3 linked regions of the Homo sapiens genome follow. The protein of the gene in region 2 interacts with the protein of the main gene of each other region in a pairwise test. Each region holds a gene or a part of one and is shown on either strand. Other genes may lie near its edges.

Region 1 (3,753 bases), on a different chromosome or scaffold from region 2:
CAGCATCAACTTCATTGTAAACTTGTTAGAGAAATTTTATGTCCAATTTCTACCCATGGAATGATCAGACTAAGTCATATTCTTTGAATATTATCCTCCCCACAAAGCCAATACATCTTTTCTCCAAAACATGACACGCAAATTGGAGAAATGTAGAATTTAGAATGGACTATTACAAATAAGCAAATTCTTGATAAATTTGCCAACACAATATGTGGGAAGACATCTGTGAGATGCATTGGAAAATCTTTCGTCTTCTGAACATCTGTGAGATAGAGAAAATTTTACTTTGGTGAAGGCAGTTTATGTGCAAAAAAAAAAAAAATAGGGAGCTGGCTTAAAATAAGATTTAGAGATTATAAACTGAAAATATCTTACAGTTTAAAGCAATCACCCTGAGTTTTGTGTATACATTATAGTTATTAGAAATAAAAATCCATGAGAGATGCATGAAAGTACACAAGTTACAAAGTTGCACACTATCTGCTTTTACCTTTCCTCCCCCGCAAATTACAACATGGTTTATTCATCTGCTCCAAGCTACTTACCACATGTAACGGTGCACATTCCGAATTCTACTTCTTTGACGACATTCCTATTTGAAACTAAACATAAAGGGTAAAGATACATTATTTAATTATATGAAAACTTTTCTAAGTGAAACACCTCTTACTTGGAGATGAAAGACATGTGTATGATATGGGCAGCAGACATTTTTTAAGTTTTCCATTTAAATCAGAAAACAATGCCATTCTGAGTACTGTTATTGTCTAACTCAAAAGAGTCTCAAACCTCTAAAGAAGTCCATTAAATTAGGAAATAACCTAATAGGAAGGTTTATATTTAAACTTTGTATATACCTTAAAAATGTTTTTCATCAGTTGATATATAGTGAGTCAAAACTTGATAGAGGGTCTCAGAAAAACACACAAAGCCCTATCTGTTGTAAAAACCAATGTTTTCTATTCTCTATTTTCCAAAATTGAGTGTATAATTTCCATTCAAAAAGAAGCCCTTAACCAGTGTTCATTAAAATGATAAAAGTTATAGATTAGTTCTACTCATTTCCCAGGTTAAGATGGTAAATTTAAATATTTCTAAGAATTTATTTCAACACTTTACAAGGTTAGTATAGGAATATATCACTATTTAAGAAATTAAGTGTTGTTGGTTCTAAATCATATGTTTCTCTTTTTCTAATCATTTGAAGTTTGGCATAGAATTCCACTAGCTATAGTATATAAGCAATTCTTCAGCTCAAATTAGGACGAAAGTCTCAATAGAAAAAATATAAAGTGAGTTGTTAGAAGATGACTTTCAAAAGGCATTGTACCCTAGGACAACAAATCGCATGGAAAACACATCGAACTGGAGTCCAAAGAGCTGCTTCTATCACTAATTAGCTGTTTGCATTTAAGCAAATTTAATTAAATGCTGTCAGGCTTAGTTAACCCTTCTGCAAAATTTGGAAAGGAAAATCCTCATTTGATTGCTGTAAGAATTAAATAAGGATAATGTGTGTGAAAGCATTCTATAAATTGTTTAGTACTACAAACATACTTAAGATATAATTACCCAATTTAAACTCATTTTGTACTTATTAATTTAATGTTTTTTTCCCCTATTTTGATAACTGTAAAATCTCAAAATAGCTTCATAAACACTACTATTCTGTACTTAAGAGCACCAAATATAGTTTTTTGTTTTTGTTTTTCCGAGAGAGTCTTGCTCTGTTGCCCAGGCTGGAGTGTAGTGGCATGATCCCGGCTCACTGCAACCTCCGCCTCCCAGGCACAAGTGATTCTTCTGCTTCAGCCTCCTGAGTAGCTGGGACTACAGGCAGACGCCACCATGCCCACCTAATTTTTGTATTTTCAGTAGAGACGGGGTTTCACCATGTTGGCCAGGCTGGTCTCAAACTCCTGACCTCAAGTGATCCACCAGCCTCAGTCTCCCAAAGTGCTGGGATTACAGGAATAAGCCACCGTGCCCAGCCCCAGTATAGTATCTTGCATACTCAGTAAGCACCCAATGCACATAAGTAAATCAATATTGACTTTAAGTCATTTCTTTAACGAAAATAAATGATTTAGACTATCATGATGATCCATTTTGAATTGTGGAATGCTTAGATACCTTCTACAGACACATTATGAGACACAAATTAAAAGCCAAATCCTGAACATAGAAAACACGGCTAAGAGAATGAGTGCTGCACTACTTTTAAATATAAGCCTTTTTCAAAAACCATTAGTCAATCACTAGGCATTCTACTTTGGGAGAGTTGTTCAATTTCTTCCAACTTGTTTCCTTAAAGAAAAAAAAAATGAGACTAAATAAGAAAGTTTCTAAAGTCCCTTTCAGCTTTAATATTCTATGATGTATTGAGTGTCCATTAGTTTACTCAGTAACTTTTTTTAAAAATGGGAATCCTACAATGGTGGGTCAGTGGAATTGTATGTAACTGGACTTCAGTTTGGCATTTGTCAAAATTTCTTGTTATAAACCTATGAGTGGTAAAAAAAATATATGGTCTGAATGTCAGTAGTTTTATGTGAAACTGTTTAAACTCTAAGACCACAGTTGTTAATTAACCAGTTGGTGTCAACATGGTAGGAGTGATGTGTCACAGGGCTCTGTCCTGTTCAACATTTTTATTAATGACCTGGAAAAAGATGCTGTTATCATGCTGACTGAATCCAGAATTCTGCAAAGCTAGAAAGGATAGCAAATATATTTGATGATACATCTGGATCTAAAAGATGACAGGGTGAAATAATGGGCAAATCTAACAAAATGAAACCTTGTAGGAATAAAAAGTCCTTCACATACAGCTAAAAAGCCAACTGTCCAAAACTATTTTATGGGTGGTCTTAATTTGATAGGACAGTTAAAAACGAATGGAGAGTTCAATAGTGAATTCAATAGGAATCAAAGATGTGCAGAGGCTTCCCTAAAAATCTACTGGGTCTTAGACTACACTAACAAAAGCCTGGCATCCACAGTGATAAGGAAAATGATCTTGCTCTTTTAGTTGTGGCCAGATCCTGAAATGTTCTCTTCAGTTCAGGACAGCACATGGTAACTTTTGGTATATATCATCAGAGTGCAATTTGAGTTTTTCAGTTTCTGACAGTTGATTTGAAAGGCTGATATTTTATGACTTCTGTTCTTCCTTAGAAGTATTCCAAGACAAAAATAACATATAGTTATATTTGTATAGGATAAAACCCATTGTATAGACTACAACTTTCTATTTTGCAATTACTATGTAGGTCTATTGGCCCCTTTTTATAAATCTAAGGGTATACTTGTATAAAAGATATATTTAAAAGGTATATTACATGGTATACAAGGTATAACAAAAGTATAAGGATATAAATCTATTATCTTTTTTTTTTTTTAAGACAGAGTCTCGCTCTGTTGCCCAGGCTGGAGTGCAGTGGCGTAATCTCGGCTCACTGCAAGCTCCACCTCCTGGGTTCACGCCATTCTCCTGCCTCAGCCTCCTGAGTAGCTGGAACTACAGGCACACGCAACCACGCCCGGCTAATTTTTTGTATTTTTAGTAGAGATGGGGTTTCACCGTGTTAGCCAGGATGCTCTCGATCTCCACCTTGTGATCTGCCCACCTCGGCCTTCCGAAGCACTGGGATTACAGGCGTGAGCCACCGCCCCTGGCCATAAATCTAATATCTTAATGATTTTTCTTTATCTTGAAACATTGTGATATTTCATCATCCATAATGATGG
Region 2 (3,753 bases):
ATATTGTTACAGTGTCAGAAGAATTTTCTTCATAATTTTTTTCACTTAAATTTGCATGAAAAAGAGTTTCTAACCCTCAACTCTCAGCAGGTAGATGAAGAAAACACACACACACAAATACACACAACACACACACACACACACACACACTTCCCAGGGATAGAAAATAAAACAATTCCAGGGAATCTACCAGATTAGATCAACTACCCTCAGAAAACAGAGAACTGGCCACATTACTTTTCAAAAGAAGACTCCTATTATTAATGGCACTAAGGTTTAAAAACAGCAGTCTGTCAAAGTGAAGCCTCAAGACAGAAACTTTATAAACAGCTTTTAACCCACAAAGACACGAGCTTTCACTCACCACTGAGTAAGACTTCTTGATTTGGTTAGTAACACCCTAAGTGGCTTTCAGGAAGCCTTCACCAACTGCTGAGTAGACAGTCAAGAGCACAAAAAGGCTTCCCTGGAGATTACCTCCTCCTAGTTACTCGAGAAACTCAGATTGCCCTGACACTGCCAGACAAATAACTGTATCCCTTTGACATCCAAAGATTACCTGTCAAAAGGAAACTCCAAACACACACGTTCACACGCACGCGCATGTATACACACACACACAAACACACACACACCCCACCACAGTCTGGTTGGCATGAGCCCTACCTGCATGGGTTACCATTTCCATGATAACAGAGCACTCACAGGTGTACCGCTGAGAAACACCAGGCAGACCGTCATTTAAAGAGCTCCAAGGAGTCTGAGGGTGGGAAACTGCCGGCTTTCAGCAGACCACCCTGGCAATGAACAGAGCGCCAAGGAACCCTGGTATCTTCCGTAGAATATGCCACGGTCCCATAATCTTAGTGGAACTTCACCTTGACTGTACAGTATTGAATCGCAATACCTCTTATGGGAAGCTCTGAGCTCAGACATTCCAAAAGAAAAAAGTACCACCTTCGCCAACGAAAGTTTTTTTCTTGTCTTTAAAAAGGGATAGAGTGAGAGAGCTTAACGCCCCCTCCTCAACATTCCCTCGTCCCCTGCAAAGTTTTCCAACTTCAAAATACGCGGTCACCAAAGAGCGGGGTTCATTTGCTTATTCAAATAACTTTAATACTATGGGACATGTAAGACAGCAAAGGGGACAGGTGCAGATGGGCGATGCAGTAGAAAATATGCCTGTCCCCCCCTCCCTGCCCCTCACTCTCAAGCCCCGTTCCCAGTTTCCTCTCCACAAACAGCAGGATATCACGTCCGAGCCCAGCTTGCCCCTAGCCACTCGCAGGGACAGGGGAAATGTAAACTGTTGCTACAGCCTCCTGACACTCCACCGATAAATCAGAGGAAGCTGCAAAACTTCTTGGCTTGCTCAGCTATCCTCCACTGGCACTGAACGCCTATGCACAGATTTCGCAGTCAGCGCTACGGGAAAGGAAACCCTCAGTCAACCTGTTTGCAAAGCCTGCAGAACAACTCCCGGCCTTTCGATTTTGGGCGCCGAGGCTCTCCGCGCAGGACGGGAAACCCCCGGTTTCCTTCATCAGTATCCCTCAAACCAAGCTGGAGGTGAAGGGAACAGAGCTCCTGCTGCCCGGGTCCCAAGGTTCGGTCCCGTTGCATGAGGTCGGTGCTCAGGTCGCCGCGTGGGGCGTCCCCGCCCGCCTAGAGGGTCTCCGCACACTGCGCCCCGGGCAGCCCACGCTTCCCGCAGCCCCAAGCCAGAGGCGTCCGAGAAGATCCGCTTCCAAGTTCCCGCGTCTGGCTGGGAGAAGGGGCGACGATGGCTGTCCGGCGAGGAAAGAGCAAAGTCTGCGCCGGCAGCGCGCCCCCTTCCCCGGCGCTGCCACCCCGCGCCCCAGTCGGCCGGCCAGGGGGCCCGGCATCCCCGACTCGGGGCTCCGCGTGCTTGCACTCACCCGTCTCGCCAGAGCCGCCGCCGTAACCTCTGGGAGCCGCTGAGCCCCGAGCTTCCCGAGCGCAAGAAAGATGGTGGTGTGTGTCGGAAGACCACCCATTCCAGCGTCTGGCAACCCGGCGGCGACTCTGGCTCCTCAGCACTGAAGGAGGAGGAGGAGGAAGAGAAGGAGGAGGAGGAAGAGAAGGAGGAGGAGGAGGAGGAGGAAGGAACGGCGCAGTCAGACGCCATCTGCTGTACACCTCTGCGCAGCCATTGGCTGCCTGGTGCGTCCGAGAGCCGCGGGGCGCGGGGCCGCGGGGAGCCACCTTGCGCCTCGCCTACCCCGGCAGCTGTTCCCCACCGCCCCCTCTTTCTCCCCCCTCTCCTCCGCCTCCTACCGCCTCTGCCGCGCACCCGCACGACCCTCGGCTCAGCCTGCTCCCCAAGGCGAGCGACCGCGGGCGCGCTGGCCTGGACCTCAGTTCCTCTGCTCCCCGCAACTGTTTGCCGCAACTTTGAAGCTTCGGGGTGCCGGTGCGGGCTGGGTAAGGGGACTCCCCAGCTGAGCTCAGCCCGGAGTACCCAAGCCACTGAGCCCAGGAGAGGGTCGAGCGCTTTGCGCCTCGGAGGTCCATGAAGTGATGGGGGAAGAGAGCAAGAAAGAGTGGGGGTGCCCTAGGCCCCTGTTGATAACGCGCCCCAACACGCACACATGCGCGACACTCCGACACACAGTAAAACACACACACCGAGCCATCCCGCAAGGTCCGGATGGTCTGGCGTTCCTCTGCAGTCCCCGGGCACGAGAGGGCTTCGGTGTTACTAGGAGAAAAGACAAAGAAAATCCTATCTGGGGAGTACCCCTAGCAGCATACGTGGGGGAGAGAGAAAGGGAAACATTGTGGTGACTCCGGGAAACGCCGGGAGCTGGGTGCATACCTGCCTGGACATCCCCCCTGTTGCGGGGCTCCCAGCGACTGTCAGCCCACGCCCACCAGAGCCTGGGAAAACCCCTAGCTCTGGGGCCTCTGTTTAAAGGATTTGCAGTCCCGGGGCGCGGGGACCGGAGTTGCGGGAAGGAGCGCCTTAGGCTCCTGGGTAGCTCATGCCGGAAGCAGCAAAGGAGGTGGAGAGTCCGAGTCAGCCCAGGTGAGGCAGGAGTGCAGACAGCGGAGAGCACGTGGGCAGTCGAGGAGCAGAGTCACAGCTCAGAAAGTCGTTTGCTTACTCTCTGACACTTGTTCCAAACCCTTCTGGTTTTTGACACCTTTGATCTAGGGAACTTCTTAAGCTTGTTCAGAGAGATGAAGTTGCTTCAAAAGGGAGAAGGGGCGGGGGGAAGCATGAGGACTACCTATTGCCAATTACAGGATATTTTGCCTGTCAAATCTCTTTAAATGTGTGAGCCCAGCGACAGCAGGGATTGTATCTTTTCTATTTTATCCAATGCCTGGCACACCATGGGTGCTTAAAATGAAGCAAAATAATAATGATAAAATTAAAGCTTGATGTCATAGAGCAAATTAGATTCAAGAGATAAATAGAGAAGCTAGGATCTGTCACAGATAAAAAGAAATCAAAAGAATGTAAGTGCCATTGTAAAGAAAGATGTGAATATATTGGTAAGGGGCTTCAACTCAGCTTGCTGTGGGATGATGGGTTCTGAAAGCAGGGAAGCCTTACTTAATATTTTAAACAGCAATCGCTATTCTCCCACTACAGTCACATTCTGGGTTATGCTTTTTTTTTTTCCTGACATCACTGTCTTAAAAATAAATCAGCTGCCAACCAGATCCCAGAATATTTTCTTAAATCCAAGACCATGATTTATTACTCTCAAGAGATAAAAGGCC
Region 3 (3,753 bases), on a different chromosome or scaffold from region 2:
ATGCATGGAATGCAGTGTATTAGAAAGACACTTAAAAATAATAGAATTGATTTTCAAAATACATTGTAGAGGCTAATATATAAAGGTTTTGAAAAGTTGAAAAATCATACCAGGGAACTTAAAAAATACTTTACTTTCTAGAATTTAAGCAAGCTCAGGAGTCTGATTTATTTTCATCTTTAGACTTGAAAGAACTTTAAAAAAATAAAACCAGACGAACGTGTTGTGGCTCTTTTATCCACTTAATTGGAATAAGGAGTACACAATGATCCTGAGGAGGATACACACCCCCAAAGTCCTTTTTCTGAACAAGGTCTGCATGTACTATTTACTATCCCTTGATCAACGGTGTCTGTTCAGGATAAGCTTCTCTCAGGCAAAGTTAATGGGAACATATTATAGACACATATAGCATATACTTGTGGTTTTTATGGGAACATACACCTGCTAACCAGTGCTATAATTAATTATAATTTATTTCCTCCATGAATATAGCTAGTGTGTATTCATCAGAACTTAATTCCTTCATGCAAATATTTCCTTTTATATAAGTTTGTATTTATTTCTCTTAGTAGCTTCTTTTTACTGTCCGTGTGTGTGTGTGTGTGTGTGTGTGTGTGTGTGTGTGTGTGTGTTTTCTTTTAGGATGGAGTTTCACTCTTGTCACCCAAGCTGGAGTACAGTGGTGGGATCTTGGCTCACTGCAACCTCTGCCTCCTGGGTTCAAGTGATTCTCCTGCCTCAGCCTCCCAAGTAGCTGGGATTACAGACGCGCACCACCAACATGGGTTTTGCAGCCTGTTCTTTGTTGCTTTTCTGGGTAAAAGTGCTAATACTCCACTCTTTCATTGCCCCAGCACTTTCCTTTTATATAAAGTTACCTGTGATTGTATGGATGGAGTCGAGTGGAGAGGTACTCATCATGTTAATCCCAAACAAGAGCACGTAGCCAATTACTATAGCAATAAGGAGGTAGACAGGTAATGCAACTGCCCAATATCTGCCAAAGAGAATATTAAAGTACATAATAGACACTTTAAAAAAGTTGTAATTCTCAAGAGTCGGTCACAAAGCCAACATGTTTTTTAAATTTAAATTTTATAAAGTAATATGTGTACATAAGAGACAAATAGTTCCACAAGGCTTACAGTGAAAAACTGCAGTCCTCTATCCCACCATCCCAACCCTGGGGTCTCACTCTCCAAAAAGAAATGCTTTGAGCACTTGAGCTGTCTTCTGGTACTTACCTCCTCATTGCTACAAAACATGCTCATATTACTATTTCCTCATTTTTTTCCATTACAGACATTTTCTCTAGGCTTCCTAATATGGAGATAAGGAATTAACCTCCTCCTATCCTCTTCTATACTTACATTGCAATTTCTCATTATAGCAGCAGGTTTTAGAAATAATTGTACCTACATAAACAATTTTGCAACTGAGGATCTTAGTACATTATTATTATATATTTTCTTGTACAACTTTTTTTTTTCTGGAATAATTACATCTTTTTGTCTGTTCACTTGGTTTCCCAGGAATCCACCAATACCAGAGCCTCAAATTCTCTGATAGGACTCTATTATGCCTCTCAGTATCATTATGTACATGGAGTGCTATTTTTCATTGAGTGTTTTTTTTTTCTTTTTGAGAAAGCATTTCCCTCTGTCACCCAGGCTGGAGTGCAACGGCATGATCACAGATCACTAGCCTCAATCTGCTGAGCTCACTTCAGCCCTGCAAGTAGCTGGGACTATAGGCACACACCACCACACCTGGCTAATTTTTAATTTTTTTGTAGAAATGGGGTCTTGAGATGTTGGCCAGATGTTTTTTTTTTTTTAAATGATTTGTTCTCTATTATTTTCTCTTTCTGGAACTTCTAATAGTTTGAATTTTTAACGATTATACTTTCTTATATTTTCATTTTTTTTTGTTCTAACTTCTAGAGATTACCTTTGTTTTATTTTCCAGTCTTTCAATTAAAATTTTAATTTTGGTTATCATGTTTACAATTTCCAAATACAGTAATTTCCTGTTTGCATAGCATTCTGTTCTTGTTTCATAGTTATAATTGTTTCTTACCTCTGAGAATTTTATGTTATTTAAATTTTTTTTTCTGTTTCCTGCATTATCTCTATTTCCTTCAAATTCCCTTTAATTTTCTGCTTTTTCATTTCATGCTAGAGGCTTTCTTTTAATGTCTGGTAACTTAGAGTAGTCCATTCATATTTAAAAATGAAGTGCTAACAAGTGAGTTGGAAGCACTATGTGTATGTGGGCAGGGATGGTCAACTGGTGAGCCTCACTCTGAGAGACTTGGCCACTTCACTGGGGTCCTCTAAATGTCAGAAATTATAGATCCTTTCTCTCGGGCTGGTCAGCTTCCTCAGGAAAGAACTATCTATCTTTTTCTGTGAGCAGTAGGGTGATATAAGCCTCGAAGCCCCAAGAGGGAAGATGGAGCAGGAGGTAAATCTTCTCATTAAGCCATGTAGATTTTCACTTACTTCCCTGTTTTCAGTAAGATGCCGCATTCCCACACTCAGACTTAGTGGCCCCCATGCTAGAGACTCTTACTTAACCTTGCCAGAGAGTAAAACTCCTGTTTTCTGCAGGGGAGGGCAGGGCAGGCCTCCCAGCTTTGAGGGCTGAGGGAGATTTGAAGGCTGAAGACTTCATATGGTCTTTAAACATGTTTTCAGTTCAACCCAGAATTAAAGAGCTACCTGGTACCCCAATGTCTGAGCTATTCTGGAGTTCTAAGGCACAAATATTCTTGCTGGCTTCCCTACTTCAGCAACGTGAAAATCACAGAAACAAAGGCAGTTACCTCTCACCTATCACAATCCACTTTCCAAAATGTGGTTGATATCTCTTTTCTGCTATACTATTGTTTCTGTGGTTTGTATCTTCAGTTTTTTTTTTTTTTCCTGTAGGGTCATTTTAACAAGATTTTTGGAGGAAATGGATGGAGATAAACATGTGTGTTCATGCTACCATCTTTAATTAGAGATGTATCAATAGCGATCTTTAAAAAGCTTTCAATTTCTATATGGCTATTCATGAATTTTAAGAGAACAAATATTTAAGATTTGGGTAGGTTTAAGAAATGATATGACTCCTCAAAACAGCATTAATTATATCCTCATTTAAGAAATATATTAAACTTACTTTTGAGGCCAATAGGTTAAACCTAAAGAGTTTAGCCAAGATTCAGGAATAAAGGCCCACACGAGGTAAAGTACTGTAGAAAAGAAAAAGAAAAAAAAGAGGAAGAGAAGTCAGTAAGACATACATCTAATCTATCAATCTATTAAGATTCAGATAAAACAGAAAAGCTCTTTTGAAGTGTCCCTGATTAACTCAGAAATGATTTTTTCCTCCTTTCAGTTCTTCTAGCTCGTTTGCACAATTCTTATAATACTTATAATTACTGTATTAGTCTTTTTTTTTAATATCTTAACTCACATTATATTTTAAGCAATTCAAGGATACAAATCATGGCTTAGCAATTGTTGTAATCCTTATTACCTAGCAGTTTGCTTTAGGTACAGTAAGTGTTCAATACTTCATCCCCACAAGGTTGAAGTAATTATAGACATTTAATTGCTCAAAGGGAAATTTACCTACCCTAGTTCTCATCCACCACATACTGAGCTTCTGCCCTATCTCCCAGAGTACAATGTTATTTCCCTCAATCCGAAATCTCGGCACTCTTTACTGTTATCCCACGATAACAACAATGGCTAAGTT

The links.
Region 1: the proteins of THSD7B (region 2) and SPACA1 interact in binary tests that used the Homo sapiens proteins (3 or more experiments, as listed by UniProt).
Region 3: the proteins of THSD7B (region 2) and PIGP interact in binary tests that used the Homo sapiens proteins (3 or more experiments, as listed by UniProt).

The regions. Positions count from the first base shown.
Region 1 is NC_000006.12:88,050,798-88,054,550, reverse strand, and holds part of SPACA1 (sperm acrosome membrane-associated protein 1 precursor), read right to left. Parts: intron 606-3,753; coding exon 549-605; intron 1-548. UniProt on the Homo sapiens protein: Plays a role in acrosome formation and establishment of normal sperm morphology during spermatogenesis. Important for male fertility.
Region 2 is NC_000002.12:136,763,854-136,767,606, reverse strand, and holds the start of THSD7B (thrombospondin type-1 domain-containing protein 7B precursor), read right to left. Parts: upstream 2,063-3,753; 5' UTR 1,920-2,062; intron 1-1,919.
Region 3 is NC_000021.9:37,066,381-37,070,133, forward strand, and holds part of PIGP (phosphatidylinositol N-acetylglucosaminyltransferase subunit P), read right to left. Parts: intron 3,245-3,753; coding exon 3,172-3,244; intron 1,001-3,171; coding exon 882-1,000; intron 1-881. UniProt on the Homo sapiens protein: Part of the glycosylphosphatidylinositol-N-acetylglucosaminyltransferase (GPI-GnT) complex that catalyzes the transfer of N-acetylglucosamine from UDP-N-acetylglucosamine to phosphatidylinositol and participates in the first step of GPI biosynthesis.